2 separate regions of the Homo sapiens genome follow, and region 1 is linked to region 2. Evidence: fine-mapped expression QTL. A gene starts in region 2. The other region holds a variant in brackets. All regions are shown on one strand. Distances are from middle to middle. Region 1 has its middle 21 kb from the start of SSB. Region 2 holds the start of KLHL23 (kelch like family member 23).

The links.
Region 1: its variant is fine-mapped to the expression of KLHL23 in blood mononuclear cells (TOPMed, PIP above 0.99).

Annotation. Positions count from the first base shown.
Region 1 is chr2:169,769,801-169,786,040 of GRCh38, reverse strand. No RefSeq gene overlaps it. Among named protein-coding and RNA genes, the nearest start is that of SSB, 21 kb to the left of the region's middle. The variant C/T (reference allele first, on the strand shown) is at 8,166.
Region 2 is chr2:169,725,806-169,737,354 of GRCh38, reverse strand. KLHL23 (kelch like family member 23) reads right to left here and starts at 3,523. Exons shown (of 4, transcript NM_144711.6): 1 at 3,268-3,523; 2 at 1,128-2,342. The coding sequence starts at 2,340. All of the region lies in intron 3 of PHOSPHO2-KLHL23 (PHOSPHO2-KLHL23 readthrough), which reads right to left. LOC124900531 (small nucleolar RNA SNORA51) reads right to left here and starts at 9,483; the gene lies at 9,352-9,483. RefSeq lists silencers at 2,833-3,012, 3,123-3,192, 3,213-3,652.

The sequences.
Region 1 (16,240 bases), 46 kb before region 2:
CCGGGAGGGAGGTGGGGGGGGTCAGCCCCCCTGCCCGGCCAGCCGCCCCGTCCGGGAGGTGAGGGGCGCTTTTGCCCGGCCGCCCCTACTGGGAAGTGAGGAGCCCCTCTGCCCGGCCAGCCGCCCCGTCCGCGAGGGAGGTCGGGGGGTCAGCCCCCCGCCCGGCCAGCCGCCCCGTCCGGGAGGGAGGTGGGGGGGGTCAGCCCCCCTGCCCCGGCCAGCCGCCCCGTCCGGGAGGTGAGGGGCGCCTCTGCCCGGCCGCCCCTACTGGGAAGTGAGGAGCCCCTCTGCCCGGCCAGCCGCCCCATCCGCGAGGGAGGTGGGGGGGTCAGCCCCCCTGCCCGGCCAGCCGCCCCCGTCCGGGAGGGAGGTGGGGGGGGTCAGCCCCCCTGCCCGGCCAGCCGCCCCGTCCGGGAGGTGAGGGGCACCTCTGCCCGGCCGCCCCTACTGGGAAGTGAGGAGCCCCTCTGCCCGGCCACCACCCCGTCTGGGAGGTGTGCCCAACAGCTCATTGAGAACGGGCCAGGATGACAATGGCGGCTTTGTGGAATAGAAAGGCGGGAAAGGTGGGGAAAAGATTGAGAAATCGGATGGTTGCCGTGTCTGTGTAGAAAGAAGTAGACATGGGAGACTTTTCATTTTGTTCTGCACTAAGAAAAATTCCTCTGCCTTGGGATCCTGTTGATCTGTGACCTTACCCCCAACCCTGTGCTCTCTGAAACATGTGCTGTGTCCACTCAGGGTTAAATGGATTAAGGGCGGTGCAAGATGTGCTTTGTTAAACAGATGCTTGAAGGCAGCATGCTCGTTAAGAGTCATCACCAATCCCTAATCTCAAGTAATCAGGGACACAAACACTGCGGAAGGCCGCAGGGTCCTCTGCCTAGGAAAACCAGAGACCTTTGTTCACTTGTTTATCTGCTGACCTTCCCTCCACTATTGTCCCATGACCCTGCCAAATCCCCCTCTGTGAGAAACACCCAAGAATTATCAATAAAAAAATAAATTTAAAAAAAAAAAAAAAAAAAAAAAGAAAATAATGAGATTGGCCGGGTGTGGTGGCTCACACCTGTAATCCCAGCACTTTGGGAGGCCGAGGCAGGCAGATCATGAGTTCAAGACCAGCCTGGCCAATATGGCGAAACCCCGTCTCTACTAAAAAAAAATACAAAAATTAGCTGGGAGAGGTGGTGCCCACCTGTAGTCTGAGCTACTCGGGAGGCTGAGGCAGAAGAATCACTTGAACCAGGGAGGTGGAGGTTGCAGTGACCTGAGGTCACACCATTGCACTCCAGCCTGGGTGACAGAGCAAGGCTCCATTTCAAAAAAAAAAAAAAAAAAAGAAAACAATGACATCAACAAATACAACCTAAAATCATAAAATCATAATACACCTTTTTTTTTTTTTTTTTTTTTTGAGACGGAGTCTCGCTCTGTCACTCAGGCTGGAGTGCAGTGGTGCAATCTCGGCTCACTGCAAGCTCCACCTCCCGGGTTCACGCCATTCTCCTGCCTCAGCCTCCCGAGTAGCTGGTACTACAGGTGCCCACAACCACGGCCGGCTAATTTTTGTATTTTTAGTAGACACGGGGTTTCACCATATTAGCCAGGATGGTCTCGATCTCCTGACCTCGTGATCTGCCCACCTTGGCCTCCCAAAGTGCTGGGATTATAGGCGTGAGCCACCGCGCCTGGCCCATGATACACCATTTTAATGACATTGATGACAAACTGTTTAATGAGTGCCCTGAAGTACACTTACACATCCTGAAATCTTACCACTCATATGTGAAAAAGACTTACAAAAGTGTCCTCAAATTTGTAATACTCTTAAATATATTTTTTCTTTTTTAAATTTTTTCTAGCCACTAGACCACCAGGGAACTCTTACATATTTGTAAGACATCACCAATAACAACTTATTAAGCTGACACTTTTCTAAACAACCAATAATTTAAAAAAAACTTTCTAGAGGAATTCTAATTATTCCAGAAAAAAGTAAATTATCCTTACACCCTCTCCATTGAAAATACTCTCTCTGTAAAAAATGTTACAAAATTGAAGAGTAACCAAAGTCTATGTGGCTAAAGAATGTAGGGAAAAATATGGGAAGGTTTCTGGCAGTTAATTACGTTCAAGTAGTTTTTTGTCCTGGATTTTGTGATGCTTGTGCTATTTGCCTTTGTTGTGATTTACCTATTTATTCTAAATATATATTCATTTTCCTATTTTTTTTTTTTTTTTTTGAGACAGTCTCGTTCTGTTACCCAGGCTGGAGTGCAATGGCGCGATCTCACTGCAACCTCTGTCTCCCGGGTTCAGGCGATTCTCTTGCCTCAGCCTCCTCAATACTGGGACTACAGGCATGCCACACCATGCCCAGCTAATTTTTGTATTTTTAGTAGAGACGGGGTTTCACCATGTTGGACAGGCTGGTCTTGAATTCCTGACCTCAGGTGATCAGCCCACCTCAGCCTCTGAAAGTACTGGGATTACAGGCGTGAGCCACCACGCCTGGCCTCCTGCCTAATTTTGTATCCATAATTTGGTATTATTTTTCCCAAAGAGTCCCTCTTTCCCCAAATTGCATTTAACACCATGACCCACAAATTCTGATGTGACCTCGTTCAGAATACACACTAAAGAAACAGGGCTGGGCAAACTTCAACAGTAACAGCAATGGCAATGAAATAAGAACATGAAGCACTCTCCCTAGGGTAGAAGACTGGCGTGCATGTTTGATATATATATGCAAGTCCAACACACACAAACATAAACACACATATGACAGGGTCTCATTCTGTCATCCAGGCTGGAGTGCAGTGGCACAATCATAGCTTGCTGTAGCCTTAACTTCCTGAGCTCAAGTGACCATCCCACCCTCAGCTTCCTGAGTAGCTGGGACCACAGGTTCAGACCACCTCACCTGGCTAATTTTTGTATTTTTTTGTAGAGACAGGGTCTTGCCATGTTGCCCAAGCTAGTCTCGAACACCTGGCCTCAACCAATCCTCCTGCCTCAGCCTCCCAAAGTGCTGGGATTACAGGTGTGAGCCACCATGTCAAACCAGGAATATTTAAAAGAGTCTACAAACCTCATTAAGGAAAGAAGGGGAAAAAAGCAGAACCAGCTGAGATGGGTAAATTGTAGTCTGGAGGAAATCTGGCCCACACAATTTTGGCAGCAAATTGGTGGAAAATTATTCCAGAAGCAAATCTATTCTAAAAATGTCACTGTGATGCAGAGGTCCCAGGAAAGCAGTGTGGAGACTGGAGCAGCACTGGAAGGCCTTTGGCACTTACTCTAAAGGCTAAGCTGCCACCATACTTTGAGGTAGCACCTCCTACTGGGAGGAAAGCCTTAATCCATACATTGGTAAGCATTACTGACTGCAATTAGTAGGAAAATCCCAGAGGAAATAATTCTACCCTCATCACTCAAAAACAGAAATGAAGCAATACGCTAACTTGAAAAAGCCATGGGAATTTTGAGAGAATCAGGGGTCCAAAAATAAACCATTCATAGACTTTGGAAAGAATTCTTTTTTCTTTTTTTTTTGGAAACGGAGTTTCGCTCTTGTTGCCCAGGCTAGAGTGCAATGGCGCAATCTTGGCTCACCACAACCTCCGTCTCCCCGGTTCAAGCAATTCTCCTGCCTCAGCCTCCCGAGTAGCTGGGATTACAGACACGTGCCACCACGCCCGGTGAATTTTTTTGTGTTTTTAGTAGAGATGGGGTTTCTCCATGTTGGTCAGGCTGGTCTCGAACTCCTGGCCTCAGGTGATCCACTCGCCTCAGCCTCCCAAAGTGTTGGGATTACAGGCGTGAGCCACTGTGCCTGGCCTGGAAAGAATTCTTAAGGGGAGAGCTCAGAGGGTTGCAAGCTTTTTGGTTTCGAGTTTGGATTTTTTTTTTCTTGCTTGTTTTCTTTTTATTATAGAAATTTTCAAGCATACTTCAAAAGTAAAAAGTGTAATATAAATAGTATAATAACCCTCTGAATAGCCATCATCCACCTTCCACATGCATCAGCATATGTGCAGTCTTATTTTATCTACATGCCAAACCACTTCCCAAAGCCCTCATAAGATTATTTTAGAGCAAATGACAGACATATTGATTTAATCTACAAAGTCTTATCTACGTATCTTTAAGAATAAGGACTCTTTTTAAAAATATATAACCATATTTACCATTATCATACCCAACAAATTAACAAAATTACTCAGTCATCAAATATCCAGTCAGTATTTAAATTTTTTATTGTCTTATAAATATTTTTTAAGTTGCATTACGCAAATCAGGATCCAAATGCTATTCACATGTTGCATTGTGATATACAATGGCTCTTAAATTTCTTTCAACCTATAGTTTCTTCTGCTTTTCTTGCCATTTATTTGTTGATGAAATCAAGTCATTTTCCCTATAGAATTTGTTACTTTCCAGATTTGATTAATTGTATCCTGAGGTGTTATTTAACACATTTCTCCATCTTGTGTATTTCACATAAACTGAAAATTAGGTCTAGAGGCTTGATAAGATTTAGGCTAGATATTTTTGGAAGAGTGCTTCATAGGCGATGCTGTGTTCTTATTGCATCACACCAGTAAGTACATAATGTCTGTTTGCCTCTCTTTTTGGAATATTAAAATTAATCGGTGGGTTCAAGTGTTGTCAGCCTGATCCATCATTATAAAGTTCCTCATCAGCCTCTCACCTAATGATTTCAGCAGCTATCAATAATCATTGCCTAGATCCATTATTTCATTCAAGTGTCAAAATAGTAATAGTCTGTCATTTCTTCTGCATTCACTAGCTGGAGTTCTTCGGTTAAAAAAAAAAAAATTGGGGTGGGGCGCGGTGGCTCACGCCTATAATCCCAGCACTTTTGGAGGCAGAGGTGGGCAGATCATGAGGTCAGGAGTTCGAGACCAGCCTGACCAACATGGTGAAACCCTGTCTCTAGTAAAAAGACAAAAATCAGCCTGGCGTGGTGGTGTTGGTGTGCACCTGTAATCTCAGCTACTCAGGAGGCTGAGGTAGGAGAATCGCTTGACCCGGGAGGCAGAGGTTGTGGTGAGCCAAGATTGCACCACTGCACTCCAGCCTGGGTGACAGTGAGACTCTGTCTCAAAAAAAAAAAAAAAAAAAAAAAAAAAAATTGACTGGGTGCGGTGGCTCACACCTATAATCCCAGCACTTTGGGAGGCCAAGACGGGTGGATCACTTGACTACAGGAGTTCGAGACCAGCCTGGGCAACATGGTGAAACCCCCATCTCTACAAAAAAATACAAAAAAAAAAAAAAATGCTGAGCATGGTGGCAAGCATCTGTAGTTCCAGCTACCCGGGAGGCTGAAGTGGGAGGATCAATTGAGCCCAGGCAGTGTGTGTGTGAACAGGCCATTGCACATTGCACTCCAGCCTTGGTGAGAAAGCAAGACCCTCTCTCATAAAAAAAAAAAAAAGTACCATATTCACAATTTGGTTTCCTTGATGTACATACAAGTAAAAGAAGATAAGTGCTTGATTTTCTCCCTTCGCCAATTTTTAGAATAATGAGTTGGTTTCTTAATATTGTTCAAGAGTAACCAATTAGTTTGGCTGCAAGTCCAACAGTGCTAAGCATGGCACTAAATAGCACCATCTAAGAAGGTAATAGAGCCCTGACCCTACTGAACTGATAAGTTCTCTTAGATACTGATGGGTCTCTCAGCCAGTGGAGTAGGGCAGCAGACAATCATACACTATCACAACAATTAATTCATTCTTCAGAAATCATCAAAATCAATAATCATTTATAGATGACAGATTCTAAGTGATAACTCTTCTTGAAAACCAATCATTTTTAGAACAGTCAACAAGGTAGAAAAATCAAAGGTTTTAGTAGTACATCTCCACTTGCAGTGGAGAAGTATATGGTGAAGTATGGTGACACAGTGGAAATAGGGCGCTAATTCGGGAATTTGGGGTAGCAGTAGCCAGAACCTCAGAATGAATCATTGGAATCAGTGTTTCTGGGGGAAGACATAAATTGGAAGAATGAAAAATTCAAGATTTTATGTTTATAAGGGAGGCTAATTAGTAGTTTGCTAAAATGTTCTTCATAAAGTACCCAGCTCAGAATCAAAAGAGACCCATAGCCCTCATTTACCTACATGTACTGGAGGCTACTGATACCTACAAAAAGAAGCTAATAATTGAGAAGGGTCAAAGTGGATCAGATCAGTTTGCACAAGACTCAGGCAAAATGAGGAAAAAGAAGTATCTACTGAATTTGGCAACATGTAAGTCACAGATGACCTGATAACAGTAGTTTCAGTGATGTGATGAGGGTGGAAGCCCGGAGTAGGTGGAACAGTGTGGGGTTAACAATTCTTTCAATAAGTTTTTCTATAAAGGGAAGCAAAGAAATGAGATGTTCCTGGAAGGGTATCTAAGGACAACTGAGGTTTATTTATTTTTAAAAATAAAGATGGGATCTTGCTGTGTTGGCCAGGCTGGTCTTGAACTCCTGAGCTCAAGTATCTTCCCTTCTCCCTCCTTGTTGATGGCCTCCCAAAGGGAACTGAGGATCTTTTTTTTTTTTTTTTTTTTTTTTGATACGAAGTCTCACTCTGTCGCCCAGGCTGGAGTGCAGTGGCACGATCTCAGCTCACTGCAGCCTCTGCCTCACAGGTTCAAGCAATTCTACTGCCTCAGCCTCCCGAGTAGCTGGCATTACAGGTGCCTGCCACCACACCTGGCTAATTTTTGTATTTTATTTCAGGCTAGGCTGGTCTTGAACTCCTGACCTCAAGTGATCTGCCTGCTTCGGCCTCCCAAAGTACTGGGATTGCAGGTGTGAGCCACCGCGCCCAGCTGGAACGGAGGATCTTTTCACCAATAGGGTTTTTTAAAGGATGATAGTTTAAGGCCAGGCATGGTGATGTGCACCTGTAATCCCAGCACTTTGGAAGGCCAAGGCGGGTGGATCACCTGAGGTCAGGAGTTCAAGACCAGCCTAACAAATATGGGGAAACCCTCTACTCTACTAAAAATACAAAAATACAAAAACTTAGCCAGATGTGGTGGCATGTGCTGTAGTCTCAACTACTCAGGAGGCTGACGCAGGAGAATCTCTTGAATCCTGGAGGCGGAGGTTTCAGTGAGCCAAGATTGCACCACTGTATTCCAACATGGGTGACAGAGCAAGACTCCATCTCAAAAAAAAAAAAAAAAAGATGGTAGTTTAAGAATTGCAAATTCCACATAATAAAGGGAGAAACTGGTGATCTATGAGAGCGGGGACAATTGCAAGAGTGATGTCCTTGAGAAAATAAGAGAAGATAGAATCCAGAGCATGACTGCTTCGATAGGGCGATGGCATTTGAATTACAACAAGTGGGAGAACAGGAAATATTGACACAAGTGTAGAAAGATTTGGTGGTTAGAAGAATAGAGTTCCTGTTTAGTTGCTTATGTTTTTTCAGTAAAGTATGTGAGAGTGGGGCCAATGAGGAAGGGTTTATGTTCTACAGTATTTATCTTAGAAAAAGAAAGGGAAAAAAAGGAAAGGAAAAAAAGAGGAAGGTTGAAATTTTTAGGAAAAAAAAGATATAAAATAGTTGACTCAGAGAGCAAAATATTAATCTTACTAGGAAAACCTTTTAGGATTATGGAGCAGATATAGAGTGTTTCAGCTTTGTGGTCAGAAATTTAAAGCACTGTGCCAGTGTTTGGCTGCTCTGGTGCAGGCCCAGAGAAGTTATACTCAGATGGGCAAGTGAATATAAAAGAAGTACAATTGCTTTTCATAATGACGACCAGGACATCAAAGGTGGATAAGGGAGAGAATGAACACAGAATAGACATAAGAGTTAAAAAAAAAAAAAAAAAAAAAAAAAAAAAAAAAAAAAAAAGCAGTGAGGTTGGTGGGTTGAGGACCCCAGGTGTCAGATGGGAGGCTATCTGGATAAAAATGAGGACGCCAGTCAGGATGAAGAGGAAGACAGTGAGCTAGGAGTCAAGTCTTCAGTGAATGAGGGGTGTGACTGGGTGATCATTAGAATGTAGACACAAAGAGGTGGGGCTTTTGAGGAAGGAGGATAGTTTGAAAGTGATGATGTGAGGCCTGGCACTGTGGCTCATGGCTGTAATCTCAGCACTTTGGGAGGCCGAGGCTGG[C/T]GGATCACGAGGTCAGGAGATCGAGACCATCCTGGCCAACACAGCGAAACCCCGTCTCTACTAACAATACAAAAATTAGCTGGGCCTGGTTGTGTGTGCCTGTAATCCCAGCTACTTGGGAAGCTGAGTCAGGAGAATCGCTTGAACCAGGGAGCCAGAGGTTGCAGTGAGCCAAGATCGCGCCACTGCACTATACCTGGCGACAGAGTGAGACTCCGTCTCAAAAAAAAAAAAAAAAAAAAAGAATTCCATACCAGAAATTTAAGGCACTGTTCCAGTGTTTAGCTGCTCTGCCGCAGGCTCAGAGAAGGTCTGGAGTTAAACTGGGGAATCTTTTGTTGTGTTTTAAAATCCTATTAAAAAATATAAGTGCCTGTAATCCCAGCACTTTGGGAGGCCGAAGTGGGTGGATCACCTGAGTTCAGGAGTTCGAGACCAGCCTGATCAATATGGTGAAACTCTGTCTCTGCTAAAACTACAAAAATTACTTGGGCATGGTGGCATGCGCCTGTAATCCCAGCTACTCAGGAGGATGAGACAGGAGAATTGCTTGAACCCGGCAGCTGAAGGTTACAGTGAGCTGAGATCGTGTACTGTACTCTAGCCTGGGTGACAGAGCGAGACTGCATCTCAAAAACAAACAAATAAACAAACAAATAAAATATATATATATATATGATTTGAAAAGGCCTATTTCTACACTATTACATCTATTGGATTGAACATCCTCTAGTTTACCATAGGTCTTAGACCCTCTAACTTTGTCTTGACTTTAGAGATAGTAGTGGTTTTTACACTTTTTATCTGCCTCAGTAGAAAGTCAGCTCTTTGAGGCCAATAGTATATTCCCATAGCTTCCCTTAAAATAATACTCGCTGTGCACAAATTGTCACCTTTTATTAAATGTGTGTGTTTACTGTAAAAACAGAGCTGGACAATAGAATGTAAGCTGAAAATCAGACCATAGAATCTGGCCTAGGTTTGGGGAATGGAGAGAATAAAGACTTGGATTTCATTCAAGTTGATTTTACTTTGGTTTAGTTTTGGATGAACTAAGAAGCAGAGCAAAGAATATAAACAAGATAGAGATGCAGAAGGATAAATGTTGCTTCCCATTGCCTCCCTTGTATGTCCCAGAATACACATAAAGTTTGCATTCTTGCCAGCTCTGCACAGCAAACTATCTACTAGGTCAAAGAGGCAGAGAATGACAGGCTCCCTGCCTTCTATATTCCCAGTTATATCAGCTCAGAAACAACTTATACTACCATATAAGGTGATTCATTCTTAGACTCAGTGAACCATGCTATCCAGGTTCCAGGCCTTGAAATTCATTTGATGTCCACAGTCAGGCAGGTTCCTATTTTCTGTGGCTGCACGGCAGGGCCTAGGAATTTTTCACCTCATCTTCTTGTGGTTTTTTTTGTGGGCAGGCCTTGGAAAAACAATGAGAAATCCATATATAAAATGAAACCCATGTTATCACCACATGGTGTAGAATAATTATGGTTGCTATCACACAGTTTAACATGAATTCCTAATTGCACAAATATGTATGGTGTGCTTACCATGTGCTTCGCCCTAAAGATCCAAAAGTAAATAAAACTTAGGCTCTGCCTTCTGCCTCAGTACACTTGTAGTCTAGTTAAATTCATCATGCTTCTCTGTCATGACCATTTTTTAAATAGGAGGTAGACAGCAAAGAAACAGGATACTCTGGTTGAAACTTTTTTAAAAAGTATATTATTAATTCCAGGTTGGTTAATAGCCTTTTGATCTCTTTTGGTTTTCTCCCATCTCTCCTTTCTGTTCTGTTTCCCTTAAAATAACACTCAGTGCACACACTGTTTTCATTAAATGGGTGTGTTTATTCTAAAAACAGAGCTAAGAGTTATCAACCGGCAGATTCTTCCTGCTCAGGCCTCCTTAGTGTCTAAACAGTGCATGACTCGCAGAAAATGCAAAGTGGTTTGTTCTGGTTCTTAGAGGCAGAGTGTTAGGAGGGCCAACTGATAGAAACAGAACTTAATCATTTTAGGATTTCAGGAGTATCACTGTAGAAGACAAGGGTGAATGCAGGAGTCAGCCTGTAGACTGTGTACAATCCTAAATTCCAGCCTCATCTGAAGAAAATGAACCTATTTTCATGAAAATGCACCTTTTATATTTCTTATAAATGGGTAGCTTAATAAGTGTATGTATTTATTAATATAACTGATCCTTGATTTTGGAGATATAAAATATTCTAAAAGAATTAATTTAGCCTAGGGAACATCCTCTTAGATAATAAGTCTATAGATGGCTTCACAGTACACATGCCTCAGGGCCTTTGTACCTACTGTTTCCAAGGTTATAGCTTGCTTCTTCAGGGCTCAGCACAAACATCATCTATTAGAGAGGTCGTAGCTGACCACCTTATATTAATAGTACCTCCCCCACAACGATTTTACTCCATCACCTTCATTCTGATTTTTTTTCATAAAACTTGTTACCAGCCAGACATGGTGGCTCACGCCTGTAATCCCAACAATTTGGGAGGCTGAGGTGGGCGGAATCACGAGGTCAAGAGATCGAGGCCATCCTGGCCAACATGGTGAAACCCCCTCTCTACTAAAAACACAAAAATTAGCTGTGCATGGTGGTGAGCGCCTGTAGTCCCAGCTATTTGGGAGGCTGAGTTAGGAGAATCACTTGAACCCGGGAGGTGGAGGTTGCAGTGAGCTGAGATAGCACCGCTGCACTCCAGCCTGGGGACAAAGCGAGACTCCATCTCAAAAAAAACAAAAAACAAAAAACAAAAAACAAACTTGTTACCACCTGATATCTTATTATGGGAACATACAAATTTTGTGGGGCCTGAAGTTTTTATAATGGGGGGGCATTTTTTAAAGAAACAAAATATAAAAATTGCAATTAAAAATTAAGTATGAGCTGGGCGCGGTGGCTCACGCCTGTAATCCCAGCACTTTGGGAGGCCGAGACGGGCAGATCACGAGGTCATGAGATCGAGACCATCCTGGCTAACACGGTGAATTAGCCAGGCATGGTAGCAGGCGCCTGTAGTCCCAGCTACTTGGGAGGCTGAGGCAGGAGAATGGCGTGAACCTGGGAGGCGGAGCTTGCAGTGGAGCCGAGATCACGCCACTGTACTCCAGCCTGGGCGAGAGCAAGCCTCCGTCTCAAAAACAAAATAAAAAAATAAAAATAAATAAAAATTAAGTATGAAAGTGAATATTAATGTGAAAATAAATCATAAATTGCTGGAGTCTTGGAGCTTCAGTTCTTCCTTCTAGGATTTATTTAGGCAATTTACTAGAAATGCTTATGTAAAAATGTGTAGTTGTTGCAACCTGGCTTCCACTTGCCACCTAGAACATTCTATGGCCCTCAGCAATTACCAGCCCTCCCTGGGGTATCACAGTAAATCTGACTCTGCATATTAAATATCAATTTGCTTGTTTGTTTATTGTCAGTCTGTATCAATGGAATGTCTTAAGCTTCTTGAGAGCAAAGATTTAACCTTCTATGTTGCTTTATGCCCAGTGCCCACAACAGGAGTAGGCACGGGGGGCATATCATACATGCTTCTTTAATAAATTGTATCTGTCCCCGAAAATCAACTGGGAAAAAATAATCCTTCCTCCTCTCCCATTTTAGCCACTCTGTATTGTCATAGCTCTGTGTTATTGTCTTTTAGTACTATCACTTAAAAAATTAGCTTACTGCTTACTTTTTTTTCTTTTTAAGATAGGGTCTCCTCTGTCACCCAGGCTGGAGTTGTAGTGGCACAATATTGGCTCACTGCAACCTCCACCTCCTGGGTTTAGGCGATCTCATGCCTCAGCCTCCCAAGTAGCTGGGACTACAGGTGTGTGCCACCATGTTTGGATAATTTTTTTGTATTTTTACTAGACATGGGGTTTCACCATGTTGGCCAGGCTGGTCTCGAACTCCTGGCCTCAGGTGATCTGCCTGCCTTGGCCTTCCAAAGTGCTGGGATCACAGGTGTGAGCTACTGCGCCTGGCCTGCTTGTTTACTTGTTATCTGTGTCCCCTACTAGAGTAGGCCATACTAAGAAAAGAGAGTGTCTTGCTCCCATTTTCCCAGAGTTTTTAAAGCAAGGCACAGAGGAGGCTCTCAATAAGTATTTTTTTGAGTAAATGAAAATAAGGCAAATAAAAAACTTTTCACGATGAAACTTGCCATGTACTGCAACTCTCCTTGTACCTCTGTTTTTATTCTATTTATCTGAAAGTTTCATTTAGATACTCAATTATATGCTAATTTAATGAAACATAATTAAGTTTTAAAAAAAGTAAAATTATAATAATCACTTCACTTTACACCTTAGCTAAATAAGTACAAATGCATTTTGATTTGACAGAAAGATTGAGTAATTAATTTGTAACCATCTACTAACAAGATTTGAAAGATACAGGTACTTAATAGTACTTTCAGACACAGGATTTCTGCTCTGAATTTGCACTCACCCATGATTTCTGTGACTTTAGGGAGTATCAAATAGAAAATGCTCCTACGTACCAAGTTTTCTTCCCTGGAGGCAAAATAAAATAAATAAACTGACCAATTTCTTATATATTATTTCTGAAATATGCTATGAAGGTATTAGCAGATATTTATATATTTTTCTTTTTCTTGCACAATTTATAGCATACTATACTCACAATTCTGTACCTTTTGTTTTGTGATTCTGTTTTTTTAATATATCTTGGAGCTTACTAATATTTTTGGCTGCATAGTAGTCCATTGTGCAACAGTGTCTTATTTAAATAATCCTCTCTATGGACATTCAGATTGCTCTCAGTCTTTTGGTATTATAAACAGTGCTACAATGAATAACCTTGTACACATGTAACTTCATACATATGTAAGTATGTCTGTAGGATAAACCCGTAGATGTGTGTTTGGATCTTATAGCAATAAATGACACTCCTCATCCTCACCCAAATTCTAAGCCAATTAGGAAATAAGACAAAAGAGGCAGACAGGTGATTAAAATGTCACTTCATTACTGGTGACAGCTGATGTTGAAGCATGTTGCTTACATTTGCAGATAAGAGAGCTTCCCAATTCTGGATCTCTTTCCATTTAATCATAGGCAATGTTCTTCAAACATAGGTCTCCCCATGCAGGTTTTAGGAAGATGATGGGCTGAATGCGGCCTTCCCAGTTTATTCTTTACAAATTTAACAATTAGAGGAGTCACCCCTCCTTTCTTAGGGAGAAGCAAGTGAGGAGGAGAAGAGAGGCCAGCAGCATTAAACCAGGAGAGCTACTTCAGCCTGGAAGTACACATCAAGAAACATTCCCGCCCTAACAAAATACTCTCATGTTCAAAACGGTCTTCAATTGGTAATTGTAATATATTTTTCTCAGTTGTTCACCAGAAATGTGTCAATTTACACTCCTTCCATGAATATGCACCCAGGCATATAAGAAAAGTTAGCATTAGATAAATGTTTTTCAATTATCCTTGGTCTATTCATGTCTCACTACCCCAGAGGTTTTTCTTGAATTTTCTTACATTATTTTGAAATATAACACAGCAGAATTTTATTTTATTTTTGAGACAGAGTCTCACTCTGTTGCCCAGGCTGTAAGTGGAGTAGTGCGATCTTGGCTCACTGCAACCCCCGCCTCATGGATTCAAGTGATTCTCCTGCCTCAGCCTCCCAAGTAGCTGGGACTACAGGCGTGCACCACCACGCCTGGCTAATTTTTGTATTTTTAGTGGAGATGGGGTTTTGTCATGTAGGACAGGCTGGTCTCGAACTCCTGACCTCAAGTGATCTGCTTGCCTTGGCCTCCCGAAGTGCTGGGATTACAGGTGTGAGCCACCGTGCCCGGCCCAGAATTTTAATTATAGTGGCTTCATAGCATTTTAATGTCTGGCAGAGACTGTCAATTGTCACAGTATCCATTGCTCCCATCTTCCTGTTTGAAACCAGACTCTCTGAGCTTTCACCCAGGCCTATGGCTGTCCATCTTTGTGTGAGTCATTGTAGCACCCATGCATATAATTGTAAGGACTTTGACTTTAGCTCTGAGTGAAATGTGGAGTCATCGCAGGGATGTGAACAGAGGAGTGACATGATCATAATGTCTTATAGACTAACCTGTAACTATCTGCTCATAAGGAAAGCCTGGTAAAGTGCAAGGTGCTTCTCTAATCAAAGAACTGACTGCAAAGTAGCCCCAAGACTGGAAGTAAAGCTGCTCTACAAGTTAGGGACACTAGGCCACTGGAGAACTGGGCGAGTGGCTCTCCTTTCCCTCATCTTAAATTCTTCTAAATGTTTGGGGTTGTTTTGTTGTTGTTGTTGTTTTTGAGACAGGGTATTGCTTTGTCACCCAGGCTGGAGTGCAGTGGTGTGATCTCGGCTCACTGTAGCCTCAACCTCCTAGGCTCAGTTGATCCTCCCACCTCAGCCTCCCAAGTAGCTGGAACTACAGGTACACGCCACCATGCCTGGCTAATTTTTTGTATTGTTTGTACAGACAGGGTTTTCCCCTGTTGTCCAGGCTGGTCTTGAAATCCTGGCCTCAAGCAATCCACGCATTTGGGCCTCCCAAAATGGTGACTAGCCATGAGCCACTGTGCCTGACCTAAATATTTGGTCTTTACAGACAAGAAAGGAAACAGAAACGGGAAGGAGACTGATGGTTTCCGATCCTGATTTTATGAGCCAGGATGCTGTGCAACTTCCACAGATGTTTTGTTATATTTTTGCAGTCGTTTTCTTGTCAAACTTTGAGCTTCCTCATTGAAAAAAAATTTCAAAGTTTCATTTCATCCATTGTAATGGCCAATAACTTCTTTAAAATTTATGGAATAAAAGCACAGAGCTTCACAGAAGGTGGATGTCACTATGGAAAGATGTCCAGTTAGAACTACTTTTAAATATATTACAGCTACGCAAGATGAAAAACTCAAATAGGGAATAGAAAGCTACAAAATACACTTGAAGACTACAGTTGTATCCAGCCAAGACAGTAATGATAATTTCTGCTTTCTTTCATTTCCTTTCTTTCTTTCTTTCTTTTTTTTAGAGAGAAGGTCTTGCTCTGTCACCCACGCTGGAGTGCAGTGGCACAATCATAGCTCACTGCAGCCTACACCTCCTGAGCTCACGTAATCCTCCCACCTCAGCCTCCTGAGTAGCTAGGACTACAGGTGTGCACCATCACACCTGGCTAATGTTTAATTTTTTTTTTTTTTTGAGGTGGAGTCTTGCTCTGTCACCCAGGCTGGAGTGCAGTGGTGCAATCTCAGCTCACTGCAACCTCCGCCTCCAGGGTTCAAGCGATTCTCCTGCCTCAGCCTCCCGAGTAGCTGGGATTACAGGCATGCACCACCACGCCCAGCTAATTTTTGTATTTTTAGTAGAGATGGGGTTTCCTCTGTTGGCCAGGCTGGTCTCAAACTCCTGACCTCAGGTGATCTGCCCGCCTTGGTCTCCCAAAGTGCTGAGATTACAGGTGTGAGCCACTGAGCCCAGTCTACTAAATTTTTTTTTTTTAAGGATGGGATCTCATTATATTGCCCAGCCTGGCGTCAAAATCCTGGCCTCAAGTAATCCTCCTGACTTGGCCTCTCAAAATGCTGAGATTACAGGCATGAGCCATCACACCCAGCCAGTAATGATCATTTCTATTGGTCACAACTTTGGTTTAAATTTTCTAGTAACTTTTTTTATAATCACAAAAAAAAGTATTATGACAAAAAACTTGGAACTCATAAAATTATTAGTTAATTGAACTATAAAAATAAGCCATGGCAGTGAGCAGAATGGGGAGAAGCTTGTAACTCTGATCACAAGAAAGGTGGTCATTTTTAAAAAATATAAATGGTTCCTATAAACCAAGAAGAAAATCTCAGCAATCCATAGGGAAAACTTCTGAATGGAATAGGCACACAAAAGATAAGATAGTTCACTCAGAAAGATGAGGATGCTAAGCAATACATTCAAAATTAAACCAAAGTAAGATACCAGTGGCACAAACCAAACACTTTGCTGACACTGTGGGATAGGCTAAGGCAAATTCATATATT
Region 2 (11,549 bases):
GTCACAACTTCACATGAAATCAATTTCTGCTCTATAAGAGCTGACATGTCCTTCAATACCGACATTCAGGACAATCATGCGTAACATTTATAGCATGCTTACTCTGTGTCAGACACTGTTCTAGGCACTTCACAAGCATAGATTAATTTAATCCTCTCAATGATCCGAGACTAGGTAATATTGTCATCCCCATTATACAGATGACAAAACGGGGGCACAGGGTGATTAAACAATTTGCCAGAGCTCATCAGCAAGTAAGAGGAAAGCAGGGATCTGGATGCAGGCAGTTTAGCTTCAGAGGCAGCGTGCCTGATCCCAAGACTGTTCTGCCTCTCAGCTTCCTGCCTGTCATCCAAGGATCATACCAGGTCAGATTTCCAGACCAGGTCAAATTCCCACACTCTCACTAGCATTAAAAAAGAAACAGAAAAGCCTGGGAAGAAACATTTGGGACAAAATGATACAAATTTGGTAACGACCTACCAGTTGTTTTTGTACAACTCCTCAGCACCAATGAATAAATACAATGAAATAAGATTCCCGTTTAACTTTTTTTCCAGTGGGAGAGAAGGAGAGCAAGGCAAACAAATCGCCAAACACAGCAGAAAATAGTGTTTATCAGACAGATACCGAGACCCAGGGGTGTGCCGGGTTCTGTGGGCCACATGAGGGAGAGTATGGTGTCTGCCCCTCTCAGAGAGGACTGAATTGCAAAAGCAGACGTTGTCTCTAGTTCCTGGAAGAATGTACTTTGTTACATCCTGTAGGGACCAAACCTTCCAAGGTTTTAATGAAGGACCTCTTGAGAGCTGATCAGCGTATTTTGAGAGGAAAAAGTTGAATAGCAGAATTTTAAAGGGTTCAATTTTAAGAACATGAAAAAATGAAAAACTGTCCAGATTTGTCTCTTCATCTAGCCCTTGACTTGAATATAAATTCTCATAACTCTCAGACAAGTTGGGAACTATGCTATACTGTTTTTATCTGGAACATTCTGTGTAGCATTATTTGTATAATTAACTATAGTTCCTAGATAGCATCCCAAAGTGATAAATTCAAGAGAAGTGAGACTGCTGGCCTAGCTCCAGACATCTAAAAAATACAAAATAAACATAATCTCCACTTACCTTTAATCATGTTTGCAATAGGAATCCATTTCTCTTTTAAAGGATCATAGAACTCAGCCTCTTCTGCTGGAGCCCCTTTTCTGTAACCACCTAAAGCATAGACACAGCCACCCAAGGTGACTGCACAGTGGTAATACCTGGCATTGAGCATTGGCAAACCTTCTGTCCATTCATCACTTTCACTGTTATAGATCCACACTGTGTCAAGAGCTTCTATGTTATCCGTCCTGTAGCCCCCAGTTACATAAATGTTGGGTCCTAAACATGTAACACCATAGCTCTCCCTGGTATAATCTGGTATTTCTGCTCCCTGAATCCAAACATTTGTCAAAGGATCCCATATGTGAACCTCTGATAAAGGATGCCAGTAATAGCCTCCAATTATATACATTGTGGCTGTGGACCTCTGGGAAATCTCTTTATGCATGGGATTCAAGGCATTGTATATTAGGGAGCGGATCTTATTTTCGGTGAGCAGGCAGCTTCTTTGAAGGCCTAAGGCTGTTTTTAAGTACACTGGATCTATATCAATGTTGATATAGCTCAGTAGATTATAGAGGCATTCAATTCGATTTTCTACATCATGAGCAGTCCACTTAATAACTGGCTCTATGATAGCTTCTTCTTTCCAAACACTGAGATTCTTTCTGGACAAGATAAAGAGAAACTTTTCAAGGCTGATTTCCAGAAATTCTTCTTGTTGCCACACTTCCTTAAACTTTGAACATAGAATTCTTCGAGATTCCTTCTCTAGTTCTGGACACACATGAAATTCTGCAAAGGAGTGCATTCCAATACAATTATCAATATCCAAGTGCCTTACCAAAAACCGCTCACAAGCCTTCTTTACTGAAAGGAACTGTAGCAGATCCGCTGCCTCAAGCAGGCTTTGAACATTTCTTTTAGTTATTTCAATTTGGGAAGTGTATGCATAATTTACAAGGCCTTCCAGAATATCATGGTGGATGCCAGAGAGTTTTATTTTATTTTTAAATTTTTCTTTCATGTCAGCTGTGAACATTGCCTTAAAATAATTGCTGCAAGCAGCTAAAACGGCTCGGTGACAATGGAAAATTATGCCTGAAGGACACTGAAGAGTAATATCAGTAAATAATCCATCCAAGTAAAATGTTCTGAATGCATCCAGAAAATCCACTGGATGTGTTGAATCCTTGAAAAGATAAATATAATCTTCTTGTCCTTTTAGAGCCATGGCTGCAATAAATATGAAATAACAAATGTGTTTTCAATGTTGCACATTCTCTCAAATAATCAACGCTAAATAACTTGACTATCATCGGATATACTCCAAAACTGGACTAAGTTCAGCATCTAAATAATAAATGCAAAATGTGGATGGACTGTTTGATCATTTATATGGTGGTCAATTTAAATTCAGGGTAGCTCGGAGCTTGAAATGAGGCTCCTGGATTTTTCAGTAGTCCTTTTGAGAGTACTGATTTGCTATTCCATTCACCGCAATCTACCCTGGCCTGGCGTTCGGAGATGAGATCCCACACTAGGCAAGGCAAGTGTCCGAGGGTCACCCCACTCGAGGCCGGACCTCAGCTGTCTCGGCTCGGCCCCAATTCAACCTTTTCCCCAAGCTCGTCTCCCTTTCAAATCACATCGAAATGCCAAGAAAGGGATGATGGAAATATAAATGGACAAGAAGAGGTCTCGGAAAAGGGAAATCCCGAGCCCTTTCGCTTAAGGAAGGAGAGAAAGGAAGGCAGCTCGGCGCAGCCCTTGCAGCCCTCGCCCCCTCCCCCGCGCCCGCCGCAGGGGTTTCCGCGCGCCCCGCGCCTGGGCCCCGGCCCACGTTCCCGCCCGGAGACCGCCCCGCCCCGGGGCCAGGAGCGGGGCTGGACTCGAGGGCGCCGCGTGCCGCCCGCGGGCCCGGTGCCCGCGTCCCTCTGCCCGGCGCTCCGCGCAGGTGTGGGAAGGACGCCGCAGGCAGCCCCAGCGCAACGCGTTCGGCCCGGCCCGGCGCCCGCGCGGCCATTGTCTGCGCTCCTCTCCCGCGCGGCCTCGCTGCCCGCGCCCGGCCCCGCTGCCCGCGCCCGGCCCCGCTCCCCGCGCCCGGCCCCGCTCGCTCCCAGCAGGCCGGCCTCGGGCTGCGGGTCCACACCGCACCTACCTCCCGCCGGGGCTCGGGACGCGGCGCTGGCCCGCGGGCTAGTAGCGAGCGGGAGCGGGGACGCCTCCGGCCCCTCTGACCATCTTTGGAAGAGGCGCTCGGAAGCCGCCAGCTAGTGCCGCTCCACCCCACAAGCAGCTCCTATTTTGGTGTCCCGGCGGCTCCCCCGCCTCCACCCGAACAGCCCCCCGCACGGTCTGGGCGCGAGGCCACTCGCGGGAACTCCCCCGTCGCCGGGCCGTGCGGCGAGCGGGGCGGGGCGTGCAGGCGTGAGCACGGCTCGGCCCCTCCCCAGCGGCGCCCCCCACAGCAGGTGGGACTGCTTCCCCAGGAGACAGCGCGCGCCGCCGCCTTCCCCTTCCTTGGCTCGCTCTCTGTCCCGCGCGCTCTCTCACACCCGGTCGAGCGTCTTCTCTTAGATAAACTCTGAGTCCTGAATTATTAATAACACCATATATGAGTGTGTGTGTGTGTGTGTGTGTGTGCGCGCGCGCGCGTGTGCATGTGTGTACACTCCCCTCCCTCAGTAGGCTTCGCCAGCCCAGACTCAATCGTGAGGACAGAGAAGGGGGAAAGAGTGGAGAGAATGGGGCACAACTAAAGGTCAGGGATTGGAGGCGCCGTTGAAATGCCAGAAGTAGCCGGCCTTTCCCACAAACGCCATCCCACCCCCAGCAAAGCACTCAGGAGGGCGCCTTGGTGCTGGTGAGCACATCAGGGGTTAAGCTGAAGCTTTGAGAGAAACTTTGGGCAGCCGGGGCCAAGGCGAAGTCCAGGCGAAGTCCAGTCGTGCTAAGATTCAGGTTATTGTATTTAGAGCATAGCAGCTGGAAGGAGCAGCCTTTCTGGTGACGGCCACTCTAGTCACAGATGTCTATGTGGTACACAAAGTTCATTTTCTTGTTCCAACTAAAGCCAGTATCAAATATTTTTGTATATCATTCATTCATTCATTCGCAAGATTTTATTAAGTGCTTCTAGTGCCTGATAGGGATAGACACTAGTAGTGATAAGAGTGTTGACAGATGGTCCCTAGCTCACAGGGACCTTCACCACCACCAGAGGACCATGTGTTTCCCAGAGTATGGTCTCAGAAACGCAATATACATGAATGGCCAGATAGTATGTGACAACAGAACTCTGAACCACATAAGAAGCCCAGGAAGCCAGACCACAACCTTGGTAGCAGCTGAACCAGAACAGTCAGGAAGTAGTCAACGACTGGCAATTTCCCTATTTTTTTTCTTTTTTGAGACAGGGTCTTGCTATGTTGCCCAGCCTGGAATGTAGTCGCACGATCTTAGCTCACTGCAGCCTCGATCTCCTGGTCTCAAGAGATCCTCTGCCTCAACCTCCCAAGTACCTACGACTACAGATGTGCAATTTTTGAAAAATTTTAAATATTTTTTCATGACAGGGTCTCACTATGTTGCCCAGGCTGGTCTCAAACTCCTGGACTCAAGCGATCTTCCTGCCTGGGACTTCCAAAGTGCAACTTCCCTATTTTTACCCCTAGTTCCACCTCTGCACCAACCAGAGAAAGCCAAATATGTTCCGCAAACCCATCACATAAAATACCCCCGCTTCTAGTAGCCCACCTGCAGCTTTCCCATGCCAACAACTTCCAATCAGAGCATACCGGGGGCTTTTCTTCACTTCTATAAAGCTTTCCCACTCGTCTGCCCCACCTTTGAGCCTCTGACAAAGTGATGGTGAGTGGGACTCCCTTCTACAGCAAACTCTGAATAAATAGCATCTGTTGGTTCTCCTGTGGGTGGGTTTTAGTTTAATTCCACAAGTCAGATCATCTTAATTGAATTATGTAAGATGCTGGTTATGCAGCCCCCACAACTACCACACCCCACGCACAGACGTCTGCGGGGTGGAGACCTAGGGATCTGCATTCTAATCAAGGGCAGCAGGTGATTCTTATGGACAAATAAGAGAATGTGTTGGACCCAAAAGGAAGAAGGATGAAAGTTTAACATCCCAACATCTGGTAAACAGTATAGTTAGAAAAGGAAAGCATATGAGATTTAGTTTCGGGCTTAAGGCTCATCTCTGCCACTTATCCAACATATAGCCTCTCACAAATTACTAAACTTCTCTGATCCTTCGTCTTCAGATCTGTAAAACACAGACAACATGGATACTTTCTCAACCTAACCTAAGGTTATTGGAAAGACAAATTAATAATGAAGCACTTAGGACTTGATATATAAATGTTAGCTACTATAATGAAAGAATATTTACACTTAATTCTGCATCACAACCTTAATTTGGAAATTAGCATCTTCTTAACATTTCTTCAGAAATTATGAACTTCATAGTTAATAGTAATTATAGCTTGCCCTTCATAACTGATAGTGATGCTGTTGTCACTGTTGCCATTCAAGGACACAATTGTGACTGATTGAAGGAGACTTCTCTCCATTTTTGTCACTGAAGTGTAGAGATGGCTGTTTTTGCAGCTATAATTACTGTTTGCCAAGTTTGATGTATAAAAAAATATAGGCTCCATCTAACTTGGAGTAAGGGCTTCTGGAATCATAACTACATGTAATAATAAATGATTCATGAATAATAGAATTCACTATATTCTCATTTATGCAGTTATTTCAGATGGCTGCATGAACCAACTAAAACTCTTGCTTTCATTTCGTGATGTTCCCTGGTTGTGAATTACTACTTAAAAGTGTATATCAGTGTATATTACATATTAGACTATTATACTGCTTCACTTTGCTAAGAGAAGAGCAGGTCCTGAAGGGTATTGCCTGGCATAGTTCCTCTTTACCATGTGCTTATCAAAGAGACCATTGCAAATGCTGATAGATTTGATGCATTCAGAAACATATAATTAGCATTCATAAATCAAATAAATTAATGATACCGTTCAAGAAAACAGATGTGCCATCTGTGGTTCCAAGTCTTAAAGAAATAAAGTGCTGCCATGGAAATGAGACATAAATGATTTGGCAGATACTAAGCTTGGCATGGAGTTAGATGACTTATTGACATCACACTTCAGCTTTCAAAGGACTCCGAGTTCTAAAAATAATGATTTTATTTATAATTTTTACCTTATTAGTACATCTTTCCACTAAGTACAGCCATGCCATTAAATGTTTGATATGCTGTGATATCATTAACAATGTGTGTAGATGATGGGCATAGATAGAACATTTTGTATACTTCATTTACATACTGGATTAAACAAGTTGCTGCCAAGTTAAAAAAAAAAAAAAAAGGCCAGGCCCATTGGCTCACGCCTGTAATCCCAGCACTTTGGGAGACCGAGGCAGGCAGATCATGAGGTCAGGAGTTTAAGACCATCCTGACCAACATGGTGAAACCCCATCTCTACTAAAAATACAAAAATTAGCCAGGTGTGGTGGTATACGCCTATAATCCCAGCCACTCAGGAGGCTGAGGCAGGAGAATCTCTTGAACCTGGGAGGCGGAGGTTACAGTGAGCCAAGATTGCGCCATAGCACTCCAGCCTGGGCGACAGAGTGAGACTCCGTCTCAAAATAAAAAACAATAGTAGGTAAAATGTATAAGGCTACCACATACAGCTTTGCAAATTGTGCACTGCACAATTCCAGCTCATGCAACTTAAGTAGAGTACAGTGTAAACACTGCTCTCAGGAGTTGTATAGTACACAACCAACGCAGGTATCTGTGGCTGCCCTGCAGCCGATGTGTCTTGGTAAAACCTTTTTTGGTATGTTTCCTGTAAAATAAGAAAGTGAACATTCTAATAACTAGGTAAAAATGCTTTTGCAAGTCACAGGTTTCCAATTCCTGGTTTCCAGCAAAAGTGAAAGAGGATTTTTGGCAAATAATTTGGAGGGAATGACAAAATGAATGGCATTACTATAAAAAAGGTTTTTTGTTTGTTTTTTTTTTTTTGAGACGGAGTCTTACTCTGTCACCCAGGCTGGAGTGCAATGGTGTAATCTTGGCTCACTGCAACTGCTGCCTCCCAGGTTCAAGAGATTCTCCTCCCTCAGCCTCCTGATTAGCTGGACTATAGGTGCATGCTACCACGCCCAGTTCATTTTTGTATTTTTAGTAGAGATGGGGTTTTGCCATGTTGGCTAGGCTGGTCTTGAACTCCTGACCTCAGGTGATCCACCTGTCTCAGCCTCCCGAAGTGCTGGGATTACAGGCATGAGCCATCGCGCCCGGCCACTATGATAAAATTTATCTCATTCTTACCTATTTGTCTCTGTGAACATGTTTTCTCAGCGATTATGTCTATAGAAATGTTAAGCAGGAACATTATTGAACCTAAATACTGTCTCATTCCAGCAGTAAGCACTACTTGACTTCATACTCTAAATGAAAGTAGCCCTATTCATCAGATTGAAATAATTTTTAATAATTTTTTACTTTTGATTTAAACATATTTATGTTTAATTAATTATAATAATAATTATAATATTAATTAGACCAGGATTTGTAAAATAACCAAAGATATAAAACCATCAAGGACATACAAATTGTAATTTATACACATTTTTGTCACAGAGAAGGTTAAGAGATTAATAAAAGATATTCAGTATAAAACCATACAGAAAAGTCTTTCTTTTTTTTGGCCTGGCCAAAAATGCTTTCTTTGAATGGTTCCAATATGTATGAATTTTAGTTACCATGGTTTAGTTAAATAACACCTGTCCCCTGAGAACAAGGTTTCAAATTTCAGTTACTGAAGTAAATTAACTCTGAGTAACTGCATAAAATACAAATTTGCTGCTAGCTCCTCAGGTCCATGAATTACTACATTAACAAATGCGCATCCTGATCAGTGACCAATCATGTATCTTCTTTCAAAGTCTGTCAGTGATTGATCTCTGTGCATCTGTCAGTTCACATACAGACAGTAAGGCTTGCAGTTGCATTGTCTCCTTGTCTGCTAGTAAAAAACCCATGTGACATTTTACAAAAATGGGTGATTGAGAAAGGGTATTGACCAACAAGGATGAAAGTATGGCATGGAAATAAAAAGTGACAATACCGCAAATAAAATGTGAAATGGCTGGGCATGGTGGCTTACGCCTGTAATTCCAGCACTTTGGGAGGCCAAGGTAGGCGGATCACCTGAGGTCAGGAGTTCGAGACCAGCCTGGCCAACATGGTGAAACCCTGTGTCTACTAAAAATACAAAAACTAGCCAGGCGTAGTGGTGGGTGCCTGTAATCCCAGCTACTCAGAGACTGAGGCAGGAGAATCACTTGAACCTGGGAGGCGGAGGTTGCAGTGAGCCAAGATTGTGCCATTGCACTTCGGCCTGGGTGACAAGAGCAAAACTCCGTCTAAAAAAATCAACAAAAAAAAAGTGAAATGAACACAATGAGGTTATAGAGGAAATAGCTGACCATGGGAATGTTTACACTACCACCATTGGAGAGAATTCAGATATGCAGCCAGGGAACTTAGTGCAGGTGAACTCATGACATAAGTGAGTCACCTTATGTCTCAAAGGAAGTGATCCTGGCAAAAAACTTCACATTAAAGGAACTCTTGGAGATATTTCACCACATCGAAAATGCAAAGGATAACACATTGGAAGTTGATCCAAACGTAAAACTATGACAGTCCATCAAGGCGTAGAAAGATGAGTACGCCAAATCATAAGTTTTATGACAAGAAGGCAAGAAACTAAGCGAACTACTATTGTTAAGTGTTTACAAAGAAACATAACACTTTATCAATGTTTCTAATGTTTTAAATTGCAGTATACTAAGTAAATATCAGTCTTACCATGTTCTTTATTTCCCTATACATTTTAACGAATAGTAAGAGAGTTCATAATGTTGTGACAAAAAAATGTAAAGGTCATAGGACAATCATAATTTTTCCCATTGATTATTTAGATCACATTATACATTTTCAACTTGTACAGTTATTTTGAAGGTCCTGTATTATTGTGCAAAGTGAGGACTGCCTGTATTTTCAGTGGGACAACCTTCTCTAAGAGAAGTAGAATGGAAGTACGAACTCAAGAAGAAAGAAGACTGAGAACTAAATTTTAAAAATGAGAAAATAAAAACTTCCAATAGTTTTTTTTTCTGAACTCCATGTCTCCTGATTCACAATACAGACGCAGCACAGGGCCTGGGCTGAGGTATATGTGGGGTCGGTTTACTCTGCCTCCTGTTTCTATACAGTCAGCGTAAGAACACAGACCATGGTAAGTACTAGGAAGCCAAAAATTTCCCACTTTTAAAGAACAACTTGTTTATGTATTTTTAAATGAATGACAGTGGTTTTGAACGGCTATATTTAGTTTTTACTAAATAGATTTAAAAGTATTATTTAACAGTCATTATTTATAACATGTTAGAAATTACAACCTTGGCAAATATTTAAACTTGTGATGAAAAGTTTCCAATATCGATTTAAAAATATGGAAGTGAGTACATAGTTTTTCAAACTTATTAGATTTGAAAGACCACTGATCTGGTCCCAAAACAGGAATTAGCCTATTACTGTTTGAGGGAGTATTATTACTATTTAAAAGATAGCAGTTTATTTGAGAATATGTTTCTGTGCCACAGAGCTCAATCCCAGATAAAATTAATACAAGACAGAAGGATAATAAACTAGGGCTTTTTCCATTATAAGCGATGGAGAAAGAATACAAGTAAGAGCATTGGCTCAACTAACCCAAGAAAGACTGATATTATTCTATAAGTCAGAGATTAAAGCTCGCCAAAGACTTCCTGGCTCATTCAGTAAAAGCCAGAGTACTTATAACAGGCTCCTGGATCCCCACATCCAGCTCTGCTTTGCCTCTCACCAGGAGGCGGTGCCTCAGGGCTTTCTCCGGGCTTTGCTACTAGCTATTCCTTTCGCCTGGACTGCTCTTTTCCCAGCTACCACTACAGGACTGGCTCTCTCACCTCCATTAGGATTTTTTTTTTTAATTTTCTTTTTTTTTTTTTTGAGACAGAGTCTTGCTCTGTCACCCAGGCTGGAGTACAATGGTGTGATATCAGCTCACTGCAACCTCTGCCTCCCAGGTTCAAGTGATTCTCCTGCCTAGGCCTCCCGAGTAGCTGGGATTACAGGTACATGCCACCACACCCAGCTAATTGTTGTATTTTAGTAGAGATAGGGTTTTGCCATGTTGGTCAGGCTGGTCTCGAACATGTGACCTCCAGTGATCCTCCCACTTCGGCCTCCGAGAGTGCTGGGATTACAGGCATGAGCCACTGCACCCTGCCTTTTTAAAATTTTTGTGGGTTCATAGTACGTGTATATATTTATAGGGTACGTGAGATACTTTGATGCAGACATGCAATGTGTAATAATCACATCATGGTAAATGGGGTATCCATCACCTCAAGCATCTATCCTTTGTGTTACAAACAATCCAATTATACTCTTTTAGTTATTTGAAAATGTATAATTATTATTGGCTATAGTCACCCTGTTGTGCTAGCAAATACTAGGTCCTATTTATTCTTTTAAACTAGTTTTTGTACCAATTAAACATCCCCACAGTCCCCCACTACCCTTCCCAGCCCCTGGTAAACTTCCTTCTACTTTCTATCTCAATTGTTTTAATTTTTAGCTCCCACAAATAAGTGAGAACATGTGATGTTTGTCTTTCTGTGCCTGGCTTATTTCACTTAATATAATGACATTCCAGTTCTATCCATGTTGCTGCGAATGACAGGATCTCGTTCTTTTTTACAGCTGAATAGTACTTCATTGTGTATATGTACCATGTTTTCTTTATCCATTCATCTATAGATAGACACTTAGGTTACTTCCAAATCTTGGCTATTGTGAACAATGGTGCAACAAACATGAGAGTGCAGATGTCTCTTTAATGTACTGATTTCTTTCTTTTGGGTATATACCCAGCAGCAGTACCCAGCAGCAGGATTGCTGGATCACACGGTAGTTCTATTTTTAAGAGTTTTTAAAGAAAGGGTCTTTCTCTTTCACCCAAGCTGGAGAGCAATGGCATGATTACAGCTAACTTCAGCCTCGACTATAGCCTCGGGCGATTTTCCCTGATTCTCCCACCTCAGCCTCCCAGGTAGCTGAAACTAAAGGCATGCACCACCATACCTGGCTAATTTTTGTATTTTTAGTAGAGACAAGGTTTCGCCATGTTGGCCAGGCTGGTCTTGAACTCCTGGCCTCAAGTGATCCACCCACCTCAGCCTCCCAAATTGTTGGGATTATAGGTGAGAACCACCCCGCCCTGCCTAATTGTAGTTTTGATTTGCATTTCTCTGATGATCAATGATGTTGAGCAC